2 separate regions of the Homo sapiens genome follow, and region 1 is linked to region 2. The links come from fine-mapping of genetic effects on gene expression. A gene starts in region 2. The other region holds a variant in brackets. All regions are shown on one strand. Distances are between the middles of the regions. Region 1 holds the start of LOC105375072 (a long non-coding RNA gene). Region 2 holds the start of DRC5 (dynein regulatory complex subunit 5).

Region 1 (9,307 bases), 110 kb after region 2:
AGGAGAATCGCTTGAACCCAGGAGACAAAGGCTGCAGTGAGCCAAGATCCCGCAACTACATTCCAGCCTAGGAGACAGAGTGAGACTCTGTCTCAAAAAAAAAAAAATTATAAGAAAAAACAAAAACGGGCTGCGCACAGTGGCTCACGCCTGTAATCCCAGCACTTTGGGAGGCTGGGGGGAGCTGATCACCTGAGGTCAGGAGTTCGAGACCAGGCTGGCCAAGGTGGTGAAACCCCATCTCTACTAAAAATATAAAAGCCAGCCAGGCGTGGTGGTGGGCACCTGTAATCCCAGCTACTTGGGAGGCTGAGGCAGGAGAATCGCTTGAACATGGGAGGCAGAGGTTGCAGTGAGCCTAGATCACACTATTGCACTCCAGCTTGGGCAACAGGAGCAAAACTTTGTCTCGAAAAAGAAAAAGAAAAAGAAAAAGAAAAAAAATGTCCAGTACAAAAATGGGCAAGGACAAGAGGCTCAGGCAGGAGGATCACTTGAGCCCAGGCGTTCCAGGCTATAGTGCCTGATGATCCCCCCTGTAAATAGCTGCCATACTCCAGCCTGGCAACATAGTGAGACCTTTAAAAAAAAATGTATATATATATATATAAAATATGTAACTCTATATTCTTTGGGAACATATATATAACATATATGTTACATATAATATATGTATTTAATATATAACATATGTTATATATACACATATATATGTAACATATATACCATGTTATATATAACATATATTTCATATATATAACATATATGTTCCCAAAGAATATAAAGAGATAGTTCATAGAAAATAAAATGCAAGCAAAAGCAAAAAATGAACAGTTGCTCAATCTCATTTGCTGTAAGAGAAATGCAAATTATGGCTATGCTGAGATACCATTTTTCTTCTACCAGATTAGAAATATGTAAAAACTTGCCCACACACGGTGTTTATGAGTCTGTAGGGGAAAACGGCAGTCTCTTATCTTGCTTGTGGGAGTACAAATTAGTATTACCCTTATAGAGGGGAATTTCCTTTTTTTCAGAATTACTGATATACATACTCTTTAGCCCAATAATCCTACTTTTAGAAATTTATTGTATAAAAATATTTTACTGGGATAAAATAACATGTATAGTGTTATTTATTGCAGCACTATTTATAATAATGAAAGATTGGAAAAAACTGTCAACAAAGAACTGCTAAATAACGAGACTTTAATCCAGTGCAATACTATACAGCTATAAAAAAAATAAGGAAGATCTCGGCCAGGCACGGTGGCTTATGCCTGTAATCCTAGCACTTTGGGAGGCCGAGGCGAGCAGATCACTTGAGGTCAGGAGTTCAAGACCATTCCTGGCCAGCATGGTGAAACCCCGTCTCTACCAAAAATATAAAAAATTAGCCGGGCATGGTGGCGGGTGCCTGTAATCCCAGCTACTCGGGAGGCTGAGGCAGGATAATCGCTTGAACCCGGGAGGTGGAGGTTGCAGTGAACCGAGATGGCGCCATTGCACTCCAGCCTGGGCAACAAGAGCAAAACTCCAACTCAAAAAAAAAAAAAAAAAAGGAAGCTCTCTATATACTAATAGAAAAATATCTCCAAGATATATATTTTAAAATTGCTTTTAAAAATAAGCTAGCTATTGGGCTAGGCACAGTTGCTCATGCCTGTAATCTCAATACTTCGGGAGGTCAAGGCAAGAAGATCATTTGAGCCCAGGAGTTCGAGACCAGCCTGGGCAACACAGTGAGACTGTCTTTACAAAAAATTAAAAAAAAAAAAAAGCTGGCCATGTTGGCGTGCACCCATAGTCCCAGCTACATGGCAGAGTGAGGCAGAAAGATCACCTGAGCCCAGGAGTTCAAGGCTGCAGTGAGCCATGATTGTACCACTGCACTGCAGCCTGGGCGACAGAGGGAGACCCTGTACCTAAACAAAACAAACAAAAAGCAACCACAAAAAAACAAAAGAAGCTAATGAGCTCATCCTGCTTTACTTTTTCTTCACTCAGCATCTTCTCAGGCTCTACAGCTGTGGCTGGGTGGCATCTAGTCTGCTGCTTCTGTTGCATGGCATTCCATGGTTTTCAAGCACATTTGGGACCCAATTTTCTCAGAGACCAGAGGATGAAGCTGCGAAGATATTCTGAGGGAGAAGAGAAGTGGGGTTGAGGCTGTTTCTCTGATGTAGCCTCATTCTTTGCAGTAAAAATGAAGGCTGTAGTGAGAGGTCTGGGGGAAATCAGGGCAGTGGGTGTGGAGAATGGCAGTCAGTCATCAGGAGAAGAAATCTAGCTTGCCACGTGGCCTCCATCGAGGTCAACCAGCATGAATCAGGAGGATGCAGGCAGCATGGTTTAGTGCCCATTCCCAGCAAAACTCAGCCACCTGGTTTTATGAGCAGAGGACTAAAAGGGACTAGAAAGTATGGGCTGCCTGCCTGTGGTTACAGGTCCCTTGGAGACAGCAAGGACATAGTGGGAATGGCCTCCCAGGGCACTAAGGCTGAGCTGGGATGGAGTTGCAGTGAAGTTGGATGGAAATGGAGCCTGAAGGGACTAGAAGAATGGTGTGCCTCATTTTCCAAATTTTAAATAACATTGTATATAGCCATTGCTAATAATATTTAATGCAAGCAAATGGTAAACACTAATGTCAAGGACTATTGTAAATCTAATATGCATCTTGCTTATTCAACTGTATGTCATAACCCTCATGCCATTTGTGTTATTTAGTTCAATGGCTTGATATTTTATCGTGTGTAACATCTAATGTGTATTTATTTATTTATTTTTGAGACAGAATCTCCCTCTGTTGCCCAGGCTGGAATGCAGTGGTTTGATCAGAGTTCTCTGCAGCCTTGAACTCCTGGGCTCAAGCAATTTTCCTGCCTCAGCCTCCCGAGTAACTAGGACTATAGGCATGACCCACACCACTCCTGGCTATAACATGTTCACAATTGAAAATTTGTTTTTTTTATTTTTTTACTATTATAGATAATATCAAAGTTTTTTTAAAAAAGAATGATATGCCTAAGTGCTTCACTTTCATTATCGCAGTTGTCCATACAACAGCCCTCTGAGATAGGAATTGTCACCTCTAATTGACAGATTCAAAAGGATACTCTGTTAGAAAGGTAAAATAATTTGCCCAAAGACACATAGCTCGTGAATCTTCACCTTAAGCCACTATGCAAATTGTTGGGAAAAGAAAATAACTTTTATTTGGTGAGGTGGCAGGTGCCTGTAATCCAGCTTCTTGGGAGACTGAGGCCTGGGAATCGCTTGAACCTGGGAGGCGGAGGTTGCAGTGAGCTGAGATCGCGCCACTGAACTCCAGCCTGGGCGACAGAGAGAGACTCTGTCTCAAAAAAATAAAAATAAATAAAATAAAAATAACTTTTATCTGAGGAATGCAAATCCTTTTAATTATCAGACCCAGAGAGACAGTAACATGACACACAATTGCACCCTATACCCTGCACTCCCCTTTAAGTTATGTATTCATCTCTTGAAACTGCTTGCTACTTCTACAG[G/C]TAGCTATAAATTATCCTAATAATGGGACACCAGACACTATAGCCAATAACTAATCAATGTTATTTCTGAAAACCGGTGAGAATTCCTAACAAATAACTTTGTATCATTCCACTCACTGTCCTCCTTTTTTACCTTTCTTTTCTTTTCTTTTTTGTTTTTTGAGACGGAGTCTCACGCTCTCACCCTGGCTGGAGTACAATGGCGCAATCTTGGCTCACTGCAACCTCCATCTCCCGGGTTCAAGCAATTCTCCTGCCTCAGCCTCCCAAGTAGCTGGGATTACAGGTGCCCACCACCACACCTGGCTAATTTTTTGTATTTTTAGTAGAGACGGGGTTTCGCCATGTTGGGCAGGTTAGAACTCCTGACCTCGTGATCGGCCTGCCTCGGCCTCCCAAGGTGCTGGGATTACAGGCGTGAGCCACTATGCCCAGCCCTTTTTTACCTTTAAAAATGCATTTTGGGCCGGGCACAGTGGCTCATGACTTTAATCTCAGCACTTTGGGAGGCTCGGGGGGGTGGGCGGTGGGGCAGATTACTTGAGGTCAGTAGTTTGAGGCTAACCTGGCCAACATGGTGAAACCCTGTGTCTACTAAAAATACAAAAATTAGCCATGCATGGTGATGTGCACCTGTAGTCCCAGCTACTCAGGAGGCTGAGGCAGGAGGATCACCTGAGCCCGGGAGGCAGAGGTTATAGTAAGCCAAAACTGTGCCACTGCACTCCAGCCGGGTGACAAAGAGAGGCCCTGACACACACACACACACACACACACACACACCCCAAAACAAAACAAAACAAAAACCTTTTTGTTTTTTGAGACAAGGCCTCGCTCCGTCACCCAGGCAGGAGTGCATTGGCATGATCACATTTCACTGCAGCCTCGACCTCCTGGACTCAAGTGATCCTCCCACTTCAGCTCCCCACACAGCTGGGACCACATGTGTGCGCCACCAGTCCTGGCTAACTTTTTCTTTTCTTTTTTTGAGATAGTCTCACTCTGTCACCCAGGCTGGAGTGCAGTGGCACAATCTCAGCTCACTGCAACCTCCGCCTCCCGGGTTCAAGCGATTCTTATGCCTCAGCCTCCCGAGTAGCTGTGACTACAGCCGTGTGCCACCACGCCTGGCTATTTTTTGTATTTTTAGTAGAGATGGGGTTTCACCATGTTGGCCAGGCTGGTCTTGAATTTCTGGCCTCAAGTGATCTGCCCACCTCAGCCTCACAAAGTGCTGGGGTTATAGGTGTGAGCCACTGTACCCAGCCTAAAAATCCACTTGTAACTGCTGCTAATCGGGATGTATATTCAGAATAATTTGAATCTATTCTCCAGGGTTACAATCCTTAAGTTTAGCCCAAATAAACTCTCTACTTATGTGAAGTTTGCTTCATTTTATGTTTACAGAGTGTTCGTGAGTAACCAGCTTTGTTACAAACCGGAAGGGATAGTCCTGATTTGAGAGTTTTCTGCTTCCTTTCCATCCTGGCTTGAAGTTGGCAGCATTTCACCCTAGGCCATGGAACAAGAGGTGGGGTCAGCATCTTCCTAGGGTTCCCAGAACCAATCCGGACTGCCCGGGACCTCTCAGAGTCTCAAAGGACCTGCTAGGTTTTTGTTTTTAAAAGATGGAGTCCCCGTGTTGCCCAGGCTGGTCTCAAACTCCTCAGCCTCCCGAGTAGCTGGGATTACAGGCATGTGCCACCATGCCCAGCATGGACCTGTTAGCTTGAGGCTCTCACTGACCTCTCCCTGCTCTCTCTGGGGACTTTTGCTCATCACTCAGAGAAGCTCTGTGGAGAGCAGGTGGTGGCTGCCATCTCTTAGAGAGAGAGGGAGGACGACAAGTGGGAGAACAGTCTTTCAAAGAGGCTCCAAAGAGAGTGTGACCTATTCTTTCAGGCAGGACTGGAGACGGAGAGGAAGCAGGGAGGGCTGACAGGACAGGAAACGATTCCTCTGAAGGCGGCGTGGGGTGGTGATAATGGAGGGAAGGCGGCTTTATATCCAGGCAGACTAGCTTTAGTCTTTGAAGTCACAAAGAAGGCAGGGGCCAGGGCTGGTGCAGACAATCAGTCACCAGATTAAGGAAGATCAGAATCCCACCTGCCTCACTAAGCACACAAGGGCTGGGTTTAGTGCACGTGGAAGGAAGCTAGCGACCCCAGGAAGCTGCACAGGTACACAGAGACAGGAAGGGTTTAGCTTCATTGGGGATGACAGATCTCTAATCTAGGGGAAGTTGGGGGTGCTGTCTCTACCTGAGAGGCTGAGAAGCGCATGTGCTTGGGCTCCAGTGTCCCTGCCAGAAACCAGAAGGGGAGGCTGTGGAGGGCTCTGGAAGGACAGGAGGAGAAGTACAGTTTAGGGGCTGCTGTGAGTGGCCTGGGTGTTCTCACTACTGCAGGGGGCTGGGGCTGGAGTTGGGGTGTGGGCACCTGGGACAGAGACCCCGAGGTCAAAAACAGGTGGACCCAGAAATAAGTGTTTCTTCCATGCCTCCTGCAAGGACAGTAGCTTGACAAGCAACAAATTTCTTTTTTTTTTTTAATTTTCTTTTTAATTCTCAGCAAGGCAAGTTACTTCTATATAGAAGCGTGCGCCCTTATAGATGGAACAATGGTGAGCACACATTTGGACAAGGGAGGGGAAGGGGTTCTTATCCCTGATGCACGTGGCCCCTGCTGCTGTGTCGTTCCCCTATTGGCTAGGGTTAGACCGCACAGGCTAAACTAATTCTGATTGACTAATTTAAAGAGACTGACAGGGTGAGTGCTTTGGTGGGAGTCAGGGCAGAGCAGGTAGCAGGTGATTGGAATAAATTAGGGTGGAGCAGGTGATCGGAATGAGTCAGGGTGGAATAGGTAATTGAAAAGGTTGCTTTACGAGGAAGTGAAGTTTAAAAATAGAAGGCAAAGAATTGAACATACTGACATATTAATTCTTTGAAAAGAAATTTAGAACTCATATCTAACAATCCCTCCCCTTGTATTTCCTTACAGCTTTCTTTTCATACTTTTTTTTTTTTTAACATGTCTTGACTTAGTTGCTTTGCTTGATTTTCTAAAAGAAGAAGCTTCTCTGGATAAGGTGGAGGATAGTTAAGGGAGGTTTTAGTAAGTGGACAGGCAACAAATTTCTAACAATAATAATAATGATTTGAATCTGAACACCTTTAAGGCAGGAACGAGTTCACCTATTGCCACAGTCCTCAGCCTTCCCAGTCCCACACGAGGAGGATTTGTTCATTTATTTATTTAAATTGTTTTTGAGACAGAGTCTTGCTCTGTCACCCAGGCTGGAGTGAAGTGGTATGATCTTGTCTCACTGCAACCTCCACCCCCCAGGTTCAAGCAGTTCTCCTGCCTCAGCCTCCCAAGTAGCTGGGATTATAGGCGCGTGCCACTACGGCCAGCTAAGTTTTGTATTTTTAGCAGAGACGGAGTTTTGCCATGTTGGCCAGGGTGGTCTCAAACTCCTGACCTCAGGTGATCCACCTGCGTTGGCCTCCCAGAGTGCTGGGATTACAGGCGTGAGCCACCGCGCCCGGCAGTTCGTTCATTTATGTGACCTGCTGGCTGCAGGTGTCAGATTTTTAACCTTCGAGGCTCCTGCAGTGCCACCTTTGGGGACCCCAGTTTGAAGCAGCAGATGAGAGTCCTGGAGCCCTGGCTCAGCCCCCGTAGAAGCGCTCCACCATAGGGCACACCACACAGTTCTTCACAGGGAGGGACTTGTGTGCTTAGCATCTGGCACTGCCCATAAACGCCAACTATGGCCTCTAGTTATTGTGACAACTGCACATTTCTATATGCTCCCTATCACCCTTGGCTGAGAGCTACCCAATCCTTTGGTCCTGGGTAAGTGACTTCCACCCTTGCCAGTCTTTTCTTGGCATAAAAACACAGAGACATGGAAGCCAATGGCATGTGCTATTTATTAGAATAGTATCCACAGATGGGGAGGAAAACAGAGGCTGTGCCAGGATGGGTGGTCAGCAGGTAGGTGTGAGCAGGACAGCAAGCATGGAGGGTAAGAAACGGGCTACAAGTCCCTTCCCTATTCTTGGCCTCCCCAGCCAGGGGGACCCTGGGGAAGCATCAACTACTCTTTAGTAAAATATACTCTGAGAGAGCGATGGTGGGGGAAAGCCAGCCATCAGAAGCCGGGTTGGGGAAAAAAGAGAAAGCCTCTGAGCTGGGGGAGTGGGCACGGAGGTCCCACTGCTGCAGTAAACACGGCACCTGGGACCCGGGCACTGCCACCTGGAGCCCATTTCATCAGCAGAGACCGGAGAGCTGAGGGCTACAAGAAGCACCCCACCCTCCTGGGCTAGAACCTCGCTGCTGCTGCTGCTGGTAGAGATGACCAGGCTCCTACAGCGCCTCTATCCCCACATGGTCATCTGCAGCCACTGTGGAGACAGGAAGCAGATCCCAGGGTGGGAAGAGACGGGGGCAGGATGCTGGCCCGGGGACATCAGAGCTGGGTGGGGGTGGGGTTGAGGGGCAGGCAGGTGCAATCCTGCAGATTCCTTCCCACCCTTCTCCAAGTACCTGTTCCAGGCTCAAGCAAATATGGCCAGTATTCTTGGGGTCCATGGTTAGAAAGAATGCTGCGTTACAGAGGAAGCGGGGGAGAGGGGCTGAATGCTAAGTCAGTGTTCCGAAAGAACCACTCCCAACTAGGTAGGAAGGGGCGACACCAGGTGTTCCTGGCTGTTCCCCACATAAATCCCCTAGCCAAGTGGGGAATTAATGATAGCAACTCACATAGCCTCACCAGGAGCCAGGCCCAGTTCTGATTGCCTTCCATAGACTAACTGGTTTAACCTGCACCTCAGTCCTTTGAGGGCAGTACTATTATTATCCACATTCTAAAGAGGAGGGAATGGAGGCACAGAAAGATTAAGTGACTTGCTCAAGTCACCTCTGCCAGCAAGTGGCGGAGCTGGGCTTTGAATCCATTTCATGTGTGCCTTGTAAGGGGGAGGGGATCTGGAGCAGCACCCATCAGGGTGGGTGTTTGGGAAAGGGCCCGCGGCCCCTGGCCTAGGCTGGGGAGTGGGTAGATGCCTAACTCACTGAACATGGTCTTTAGCCTCAGGAAACAGCTGATGAAGCTGTCAAAGTCTATGATCAGGTCATCATCTGCATACCTGGCCACCAGGACCTGCATTACCTTGTTGTTCAGCTTGATGCCTGAGAGAGGGAGAGAGAAGTGGGGAGGGGAAAAGTCTGGGCCTCTGGACACTGCCATCCTCTTCCCTGCCCCAAGGCCCACTCCTGACCCTTGGCCACCTGCTTTCTCAATAACCAGGCGCATCTCATAGGAGTTCAAGGTGCCTGAATGGTCCTGGTCACACTCTCTGAAGATGTCCTGAAGAGACAGACAGATATGGTAGGGCCACATGCATGGCATGGTGGTTGAAATAATGAAATACTGAGGCCGGGCGCGGTGGCTCATGCCTGTAATCCCAGCACTTTGAAAGGCCGAGGCAGGCGGATCATCTGAGGTCAGGAGTTTGAGACCAGCCTGGCCAACATGACGAAACCCCGTCTCTAATAAAACTACAAAAATTAGCTGGGTGTGGTGGTGCATGCCTGTAATCCCAGCTAGTCAGGAGGCTGAGGCAGGAGGCGGAGGTTACAGTAAGCAGAGATCGCACCACTGCACTCCAGCCTGGGCAACAGAGTGAGATTCCGTCTCAAAAAAAAGAAAAAGAAATACTTTAGGACAGTTGGCTCACAGCAGTGGCCTAAGACCCCATGCCCCCC
Region 2 (9,099 bases):
GGCACTGAGGCTGTCCAAGGACATAGGACGACTCATTGAAGTGAGGGCCACGCCTACCACCCCACCCTCTCCTAGCCCTATTACCTCCCCTATTCCTCCCTGGACTCCTTCAGACTCTCCCTAGCACTCCAATTGGGTTGGGCTCCAGCTGGCCCAGATATTTGTCTGCAGGGTGGGTGTCTTCCCTGGCCCTGCTGGTCCCTACCTCAGAGACTATGGCTCAGGGAAGGGCAGGGGTGATGTACTGCTTCTGGCCATAGGCTGTGGAAACTGCTGTGATGCCCCAGTGGCAGCGGCGGGAGCTGCTGGCCACAGTGAAGATGCTGCAGCGGCGTGCCAACACTGCCATCCGTAAGCTGCAAATGGGACAGGTGAGAGGAGGTTTGGCTGCACCCATGTGCCCAGAGACACTCCAGCAGATACACTGAGAAGTCTCAAGGGCTGGGGCATGGGGGTGAGTCAGAGGCTGTGCAAGGACGGGGTGGTGGCAGCTTCCTTCTCCTGCCAGCTGAGAACCATCACCCAGGCCATTCCCCCACTTCTGTCTCTTTCAAACTGTGTTTCTCCCCCAACTCCCAAGTCTGGCTCAGAACCCCCGGAAGCCTACTGACTTGATTAGTGCCATTCAGCCCTGATTGCACCTCCACTGTGGATCCCCCTTTCTCCCGCCCACTCCTGGTCCATCTGTGCTCTGACCTTCCTCCTTTCACCTTCAGCGACCTATTTGTAGGGGCCTGAAGCTATGATGAAAGGGAAGTGGTGAGGGAAGTGAGGAAGGACACATGTGGGACCCAAAAAGGAGGCCACCCTAGGCAGAGTCCCTGCCACCTCTGCCTAGAGCTAATGACTTTTGGGGTGGGTGGGGGAAGCAGGGGATTGCTCAGCTGGGGCTTAGTTCAGAAGTTGGGGCTAATTGGAAACCTGCCTCTCAGCCTGACCCCTCTGCTTGTCCTTCCTGCCCCATAGGCTGCAAAGAAAACTCAGGAGCTGCTGGAGCGGCACTCGAAGGGGCCTCTGATTGTGGACACAGTCTCTGCTGAGTCTCTCTCAGTGAGTGCTAGCCAAGCCGGGCTGCCCCAGGGTCTGGGGAGGGCAAAGTCCTGACCAGGAGACAGCTAGGGGTCTGGGAAGCGATGGGCTCACCATCTGTCTTTCGTGGTCCAGGTGCTGGTGAAGGTGGTACGGCAGCTGTGTGAGCAGGCCCCCAGCACGTCTGTGCTCCTACTCAGCCCCCAGCCCATGGGGAAGGTGCTGTGTGCCTGTCAGGTGGCCCAGGTGAGGGAAGTGGGAGAGCAGCCCACCGCCCCCATTAATACCCATCCTGGTCCAGCTCTCTGATTTTACACCTTTAATTCCTCCCAAAGGGGCCAAGGCTGGGTGGAAGTATCTATGAGGATACTCCAGGACAGGGATGGGGAATCTCCTTGTTCCTGAAAACAGCCCCTCCCCACCCCAGAAGGCACCAAGAGATTCCTTAATTCCTAACCCCTCCCAGGCCTCACATCCCTTGTAAACAAGTAGCAGATGTTCACGTTCATACACCTCCCCACACACATTTCCAGCCCAAACCTTCTCCGGCTCATCACCTGACTGCCCCACCATGTGCCCAGCTGGGAAGGGGGCACTGATGACCTTCAGCTCCACTCTTGAGGGTACCTTGAGTGGATGCTGGCAGGGAGGGCCACTCTGCATCGCTTCCTCTTCTGATTCTGTTCCTAGGGTGCCATGCCCACCTTCACAGCAGAGGCCTGGGCACTGGCAGTGTGCAGCCACATGGGGGGCAAGGCGTGGGGCTCACGAGTGGTGGCCCAAGGCACCGGAAGCACTACTGACCTGGAAGCTGCCCTCAGTATAGCCCAAACCTATGCCCTCAGCCAGCTCTGACCCAGGTCCGCCCAGGGACCCACATGGACTAAAGGCAATGCCAGGAGCCCTGAAGGAGCCAGCAGAACCTTCCCACATGCTGAAGCGAGGACTAGAGGCTGGAGGCCAAGCAGCTGAGCCAAAGAAGATCACCTGGGCCAGGGCCTACGTGACACAAGGAGACATGGGCTAGGGAAGGCAGAACTGGGCCCAAAGACACACACCCCCTTGGTGAAAGAGAAGACATGGACAATTATGGCTGTGACTGCACATTAGAAATTATTTCACTGGCCGGGTGTGGTGGTTCACACCTGTAATCCAAGCACTTTGGGAGGCCGAGGCAGGTAGATCATGAGGTCAGGAGATCAAAACCATCCTGGCTAACATGGTGAAACCCCATCTCTACTAAAAATACAAAAAATTAGCCGGGTGTGGTGGCACACGCCTGTAGTCCCAGCTACTCGGGAGGCTGAGGCAGAAGAATCGCTTGAACCTGGGAGGTGGAGGTTGCAGTGGGCCAAGATCGCACCACTGCACTCCAGCCTGGGTGACAGAGCGAGACTCTGTCTCAAATAATTATTTCACAGAGGATAGCAAGCTCCAGAAGGTTCTATTACCTTTAAAAAAGAGTAGTTTTGCCCCTCCCAGCAACCTAAGACCAGTCTGAACTCACACTGTCTGAAAGGCCACCCAGGATCCAAATCGGGCCATCTTCATTGCCATGAGTGTTCGGACAGGCTCTGCGTGCCAGGCAACAGTGGGCAGACAAAGGGCTCCCTGGCTACTGGGAAGATACAGAACCATCCTGTGAAAATCATTTCAGCACTGGAGACCTTCTTTGCTATTACTTCTTTCATTAACAATGACCTCTAATTTAAATTGGGCCCTGCTGGTTTGTTGATGAATTGAGCAACTGAGAACGTGGCGGGCACTAAACTGACAGTTCCTTCCTTCATGGAGCCTGCTTCATGTGGAGGAAACAGGAAATAAAGCAAAAGAAGAGGGTCAGGCTTGGTGGCTCATGCCTATAATCCTGGCATTTTAGGAGGCTGAGGTTGGAGAATCGCTTGAGGCCAGAAGTGCAAGACCAGCCTGCGCAAACAGCAAGACCCTGTCTACAAAAAAAAAAAAAAGTAATCTTTATGCCTCAGCCTCCCAGGTAGCTGAGACTACCCACACCTTGGTCCCAGCTACTTGGGAGGCTGAGGTGGGAAAATCACTTTGCCCAGGAATTCAAGGCCGCAGTGAGCTATGATTGCACCACTGCACTCCAGGCAACAGAGTGAGACCCTGTCTTAAAAAAAAGAAGGGAGAAAGTGTCAGATGGTGATGAGGTCTGGGGGGGAAATAGAGAATGGGGATCAGGAGTGTGGATGGTGATATTCCCTCACCAAGAGGTGACATGTGAGCAGGGAGCTGGGAGGTGAGGGTGTGACCCGTGTGGAAATCAGGGAAAAGCATTCCAGCCTGAGGGAACAGCCAATGCAGAGGCCGTGAGGTGGCCAGTGCCACTGAGCAGTGAGCTGGGATAGGGGCAGGTGAGGAGGCTGGAGAGCGGGGTCAGACAAACAATATGCTTATTAAAACAAGTTGTACAGCACCTGCCTCAAGCCTGAGCTGAAGCTGAAAATTGGCACTTCAAAGCAGGAGGAAGCAGAGATGGAGGAAAGCCCTCCTTCCCTACCAGAATGAGTCCACCTCAGACAGCCAGACTTTGGACCTCTGCCTTTGTTCCTAGATCTCTGTTGCTAGATGAAGGAAAGGGCCTCAGGGGATCCATCTTCAAATCAAGGGCTCCCTGGCTACCAAATTCTGTCTAGTAAAAATTATTCGAGCAGCGTGGGCCCGCCTGGCATCATTTTCTGCAGTTTCTCATTCTAATTAAGGCACTGATGATTTGCTGGTAAGGCACTGCTGAGGGCTTGAAGGGACCCAATCCCGGGTGCCTGGCCCCTCACTGCTTGCAAAGCAGCATCCTGGCCACTGGGGCAGTAGCCTGTTTAGCAGTGCTCACCACAGGCCCAGGTTCAAGCTCCTCCGCGAGCGCCAAGATGAGTTTTGGCACCCCTGATTTATTGATGAGTTAACAGAGCTTCGAGATGTTCATCCAGGGTAACCAACTAGTAGTCCTCGGCAGAGCTGAAGTCAAAGCTACCCTTTGAAAGCCCCGCCACCCTGGCTGCCTCTCCCTTCCTGAAGGCCAATTTCTTTTTTTTTACTAGCCGTCCCTCTGGTCTGTCCCTCTCGCCCTCCAGGAGATCTGGGGCCCCAACCACATCTTGTCGCGCCAGGGCTGGAAGAGAGTTTGGCACAGGGCATGGACTGTGTGAAGGAGCGCTGTGTTGGCCTGGAACCTTCCTGCGTCTGGTACCAGACCTTCAGCTGGGGGAAAGGTGGAAGGTGCCCTCCCTCCCGCAGGGCCTAAGGTCAACAGGAGGCCTCACGGGAGTTCCAGTGACTTCTACAGGTGCCTTGGAGAAGGTGCGTCCACCCTCCTCTTCTTCCACAGACGCTTTTCCTGGACCAGCTCCCTATCCATTGCCACACAAAAGCTACCAAGAGAGCACAAGCACTCCAGACCAGCAGCCCTGCCCGACCCCCGCCTCCCGCAGAAAGCCCACCCGTTCCTAGACACGTCCCACGGAAGCACAGGGCATAGCGCAAGGCCACAGTCCCACTACCCGCAAAGCGGCCGCTTCCACGGAACCGTCCCGAGGCCGGGCCTGGCCACCCTGCGCGCGAGTAAGCCGCGTGCCTGGCGCGCAGCGGCAGCGGCAGCGGAGGAAGCAGCGGCGCGCTCGTCCTCCCGGCCCGGCCCGCTCCTAGCAACGCGGGGCGTCCCCAACGACAAAGACCTGCGCCGGCGCGCGGGACTCTGCGTGAGGCGAGCGCCGGGGCTCCCGGAGCGGGTGAGGCGACCTCCGGGAGTGGGGACACCCAGCCCCGGTCTCCCTTATCGGGGCCCCCTCTGGCCGGCTGGGCCCGGGAGCCCCTCTAGCGTCCTCTGCCCACACCGGCCCGAAGCCCACGGGCGGCCATTGCCTGGGTTGCGTTTTCCGTGGCGGGGAAGCGCCGGTCCGTACCCACGGGAGACCCCACGCCCTCCACGCGAGGACGCCCCGCGCCTCCTCCCCACCACAGTCACTGTCTGCAAACCGTCTGGCCCGGGGCTGGGGATCCGAGTGAGGCGAGGGGAGGGACTGGGAAGAAGAGGGGGAAAGTGGGGCATCCGTAGGGCGTGGAGGAGAGCGGTCCCAAGCCCTGGGGCCCTAGGCTTCTCCGAAAGGCCGTCCGTTCCCATCACCCGAGGGCTGTAATCCCTCCCGCGGGTGCGGAAGCTTCCTCATCTCCCTACCTCCCACTGCACTGCCGGTTTCCCTGGGTTACCAAGGAGAAGCCAGCGCCTCTACACCCCAGGTAGGATGGGGGAGGGACTCCTGGCCTTTGGAGCTGAGCTTCTCTGCTGGGGTGTCTGAGCTGAAGGTAGGGAGGAGGGGTGGGAGACTCCAGAGCCGCTGGAGTCACTTTTGAGACAACAGACCTGAGTGGTCAGGAGTTGGGAGGAGGCCAGCCCAGGGGCTGTGGTAAGTGAACTGGCGGTTTCACCCAGCCCAAGTCCAAGCACACGGGCCGAGGCTCAGTTGGAGAAAGTTTTTTGCCCTTCCACAAGTGGAATTCCCAACTTGGGAGTGACTTACCCCAAAGTAAGACATGGTGGGCATGAAGGATATGGAGGTGGCTGTAGACAAAAGCCCAGAGCCCTGAGAACAGAGGAGGGCTCTCCTGAGGGGATCTGGGGTGGGAGCGGCTGAGAAGGCAGAGAAGGCAGTCAGAGCAGTGGGTGCAAAGCCAGCTCCTGGGGAAGTGTCCCGGGCACAGAGGCGCTGTCTGCCCAAAGAGGGCCGGGTGTCTCCACTTCTCCACTAAGAGGAAGGGAGGAGGGGACAGTTGAGGACCAGAACTGTGATGCACAAGAAGGTGAGAATGCAAACCTACAGCATCTTCCTCGTGTTCCCATTAGGGCAGGTGGAAGGAGCTCCTACCCAGAATGGTTAGATTTAGCTGGGGACCTGAGGAAGGATGGAGAAGACCTGAGACTTCCTGTGGAGGGAATATGCCAGGGGCAGGAGAGCACCACTCTGCAGCACTCTGTTGGGCTCCTTGCACCCTCCAAAGGATGCAGGCAGTGGTCCAGCCTTGCGGAAGTCTCCTATACCCAGCAGTGAACTGGAAGAGGGAGCCTGGACTATTTAGGTCAGCACCAAGGGTATAACCCTGGGCTCCATATTGGTGAACAAGAGAGCTCATGAGCTGGAGAAAGTGGGAGACCCACTGGAAAAGTGCTATGAATGACTGAGTTGGGAGCAATTTATAAGCAACCCCAGCATCTCATGGAAGTAAGAGCATTAGACAGACACAAACTAAAACCTCAGCTTCTCCACTTACTAGCTAGTGACATTTAGTAAGTTACTTAAGCTTTCTAAGTTTCAGTTTCCTCATTTGTGAAATGGGGACAATAGTGTTAAATAATAATCCTCAATAATTAATTTGAGATTTTAATAAAATTATGTAGTAAGGTATCTAGCATCTTCACTACAATATCTAACACACATCTTGAGTGCTGGCTCTGGGCCCAGCACTATATGAAATGTCTCACACACATTAGCTCCTTAATCTTCTGAGTAATCCTATGAAATAGATACTATTAAGTACTGTCCCCACGTTATAGATGAAGAAACTGAGGCAAGTGGGGACCTGCCCAAGGTTGCACAGATAGTGGGGGGCACCGTGGAGATTTGACTTGAGGCAGCAGCACAACTCCTGAGTACTTAGCCAGCTGCTGTCCTGCCTCCTGCTATGTACATGTTATTGAAGGCCTAGAGCTCTCAATAAATCATAGCTATATATAGCCAAGGGTATGGTTCCCAGAACACCTGTCCACCAGATTCAAGCCATCAGAAATGAGGACAACCCTGGCCAAACTGGAACATCTTGTCACTTTCTATTACCTGTGCTTGGGCATGGAAAGAGCAGTCCACACCCAATCCTTTGAGTTAATGTCCTGGTATAGACGTTGTTCCCTGTGTGTGATTTCAGGACCCTGGACCCTGGTCCTGAGGATGCAGAGTAGGGGCCCAGGGGAGGAGGATTGGCCTTTCCCTGGGGACTGTGGTCCCAGGTTAGAGACACAACCATGTGAAGCCAAACAAGCTGGTGAGGCAGGCCCCAGAGAAGTGAAAGTCCACTGCACGTGTCCCCACTCTCCCACTTTCCCCCTCTGAGAGCGCAGCACATCCTTGGATGGAGACACCAGGTGGTGGCACAAGACGTACCCACTCCTGGTGGCCCTGACCTCTCTGGAATGTCAGGATTCCTGCCCTGCCCATGTTCAAGACTGGAGTCTTGAACATGCTCCTAGTCTTCAAACTCTGGCATTCTCTGACTGGCCCAACAGGTTCCCAGGGAAAGAAAGCTCCGGAGAGGAAGGTGACCCTTCAGCCACCTCCAGGACTGCCCTCTGTGGGTCCTTGGGGACTGTCCATGTGCCCGGGGCCCCCAGCTATTGGGTATCCACCCATCCCTGCAGGCTCCCAGGGAAGATAGTGCCACCTACTTGCACCCTCAGCTGCAGGCTGATGACTGCCAGGCCAGACTAAGACCAATCTGTGAAACAGGCAGAGCTCTCTCAGACTCCTGTCTTCTCCTTTACCCACTCCCCACCTCCTCTCCTTTCTGTGGTTATTCTCCTTGCCTCCTTTCTTTTTCTTTCTTTCTTTTTTTTTTTTTTTTTTTTTGAGACAGAGTTTTGCTCTCATTGCCCAGGCTGGAGTGTAGTGGCGCAATCTCAGCTCACTGCAACCTCTGCCTCCTGGGTTCAACCTTCATTTTTTTCCCCTAATTATCTTATAAACCACCTCTTTCAGCCTCTCAAGTAGCTGGGATTACAGGCATGTGCCACCATGCCTGGCTAATTTTTGTATTTTTAGTAGAGACGGGGTTTCACCATGTTGATCAGGCTGGTCTTGAACTCTTGACCTCAGGTAATCCACCCTCCTCGACCTCCCAAAGTGCTAAGACTACAGGCATGAGCCACCATATCCCGCCTCCCTTGCCCCTTTTCTAACTTTGCTTTTTGTATCTGAAACTCATTCACACTAAGGTGTGGAATACATATATCCTGATATCTTATATGTAGTCATGTGTATTATATATGTAATTTCTGCACACTTAAACTGTCAGAAACAATATATTACAACTTCTACTTTTTAAAAAGTTTGCTACATTAGGCTGGGTGCAGTGGCTCACGCCTGTAATCTCAGCGCTTTGGGAGGCCAAGGCGGGCAGATCACCTGAGGTCGAGAGTTCAAGACCAGCCTGACCAATATGGAGAAACCCCGTCTCTACTAAAAATACAAAATTAGCCAGCCGTGGTGGTGCATGCCTGTAATCCCAGCTATTCGGGAGGCTGAGACAGGAGAATCACTTGAACCCAGGATGCAGAGGTTGCGGTGAGCTGAGATTGCGCCATGGCACTCCAGCCTGGGCAACAAGAGCGAAACTCTGTCTCAAAAAAAAAAAAAGTTTGCTACATTAGTGTCAGTATACATTTTATGATTTACTATGCTTTTGTTTGACCTAAAATGATGAGATATGTTTTTAAAAAGCAGTTCAAGGTTAACATATGGATATAGGCATACAAGTATTGATATTAAATTTTGTTTCATTTAGGGGGAAAATGCATTTACCCTAACAGGGATGAAGACTGTACATTAGGGCCGTGAAATTCCCCTAGTGGAGTGCCAAAGGCCTGGGAGCGCACTTAGCCCGGGGAGGCCCTCCCCACTTCCCAAGGAGCAAGAATATGCTTTCTTCTTGCCTAGTGGAGGGCAGGAACAGTGAGGGGAGGGGGACATACTGAGTGACTGTGGAGGGGTAGTGTATTGTGGCTAGAGGTAGGAGACCTGCCCTCAGACGCTGGCCCCAGCTCTCATAGGTGTTTTAGGGCCAGTCATTTCCTGTTTCCTTGTTTCTTCATCTGTAAAATGGGGATAAGAAAGCCCATCCTAGCTCCATTATAGGGTGGTTGAAGAGTCACATGAGAAGATTTTTTTTATTTTTTAGAGACGGCATCTCACTATGTTGGCCAGGTTGGTCTTGAATTCTTAGCCTCAAGCAATCCTCCCACCTTGGCCTCCCAAAGTTCTAGGATTACAGGTGTGAGCCACCACACCCAGA

Evidence for each region. PIP is the estimated chance that this variant, and not a neighbour inherited with it, causes the effect.
Region 1: its variant is fine-mapped to the expression of DRC5 in prefrontal cortex (GTEx, PIP 0.97).

What each region holds. Positions count from the first base shown.
Region 1 is chr6:44,182,543-44,191,849 of GRCh38, reverse strand. It overlaps CAPN11 (calpain 11), which reads right to left. Exons shown (of 23, transcript NM_007058.4): 20 at 8,831-8,909; 21 at 8,615-8,731; 22 at 8,087-8,145; 23 at 7,449-7,944. The coding sequence ends at 7,918. It overlaps LOC105375072 (a long non-coding RNA gene), which reads right to left and starts at 5,867. Exons shown (of 3, transcript XR_926835.2): 1 at 5,792-5,867; 2 at 4,970-5,042; 3 at 1,909-2,141. The variant G/C (reference allele first, on the strand shown) is at 3,531.
Region 2 is chr6:44,293,332-44,302,430 of GRCh38, reverse strand. DRC5 (dynein regulatory complex subunit 5) reads left to right here and starts at 4,733. Exons shown (of 5, transcript NM_182539.4): 1 at 4,733-4,772. AARS2 (alanyl-tRNA synthetase 2, mitochondrial) reads left to right here. Exons shown (of 22, transcript NM_020745.4): 18 at 1-40; 19 at 261-371; 20 at 967-1,050; 21 at 1,165-1,275; 22 at 1,720-3,700. The coding sequence ends at 1,884. RefSeq lists a silencer at 4,740-4,819.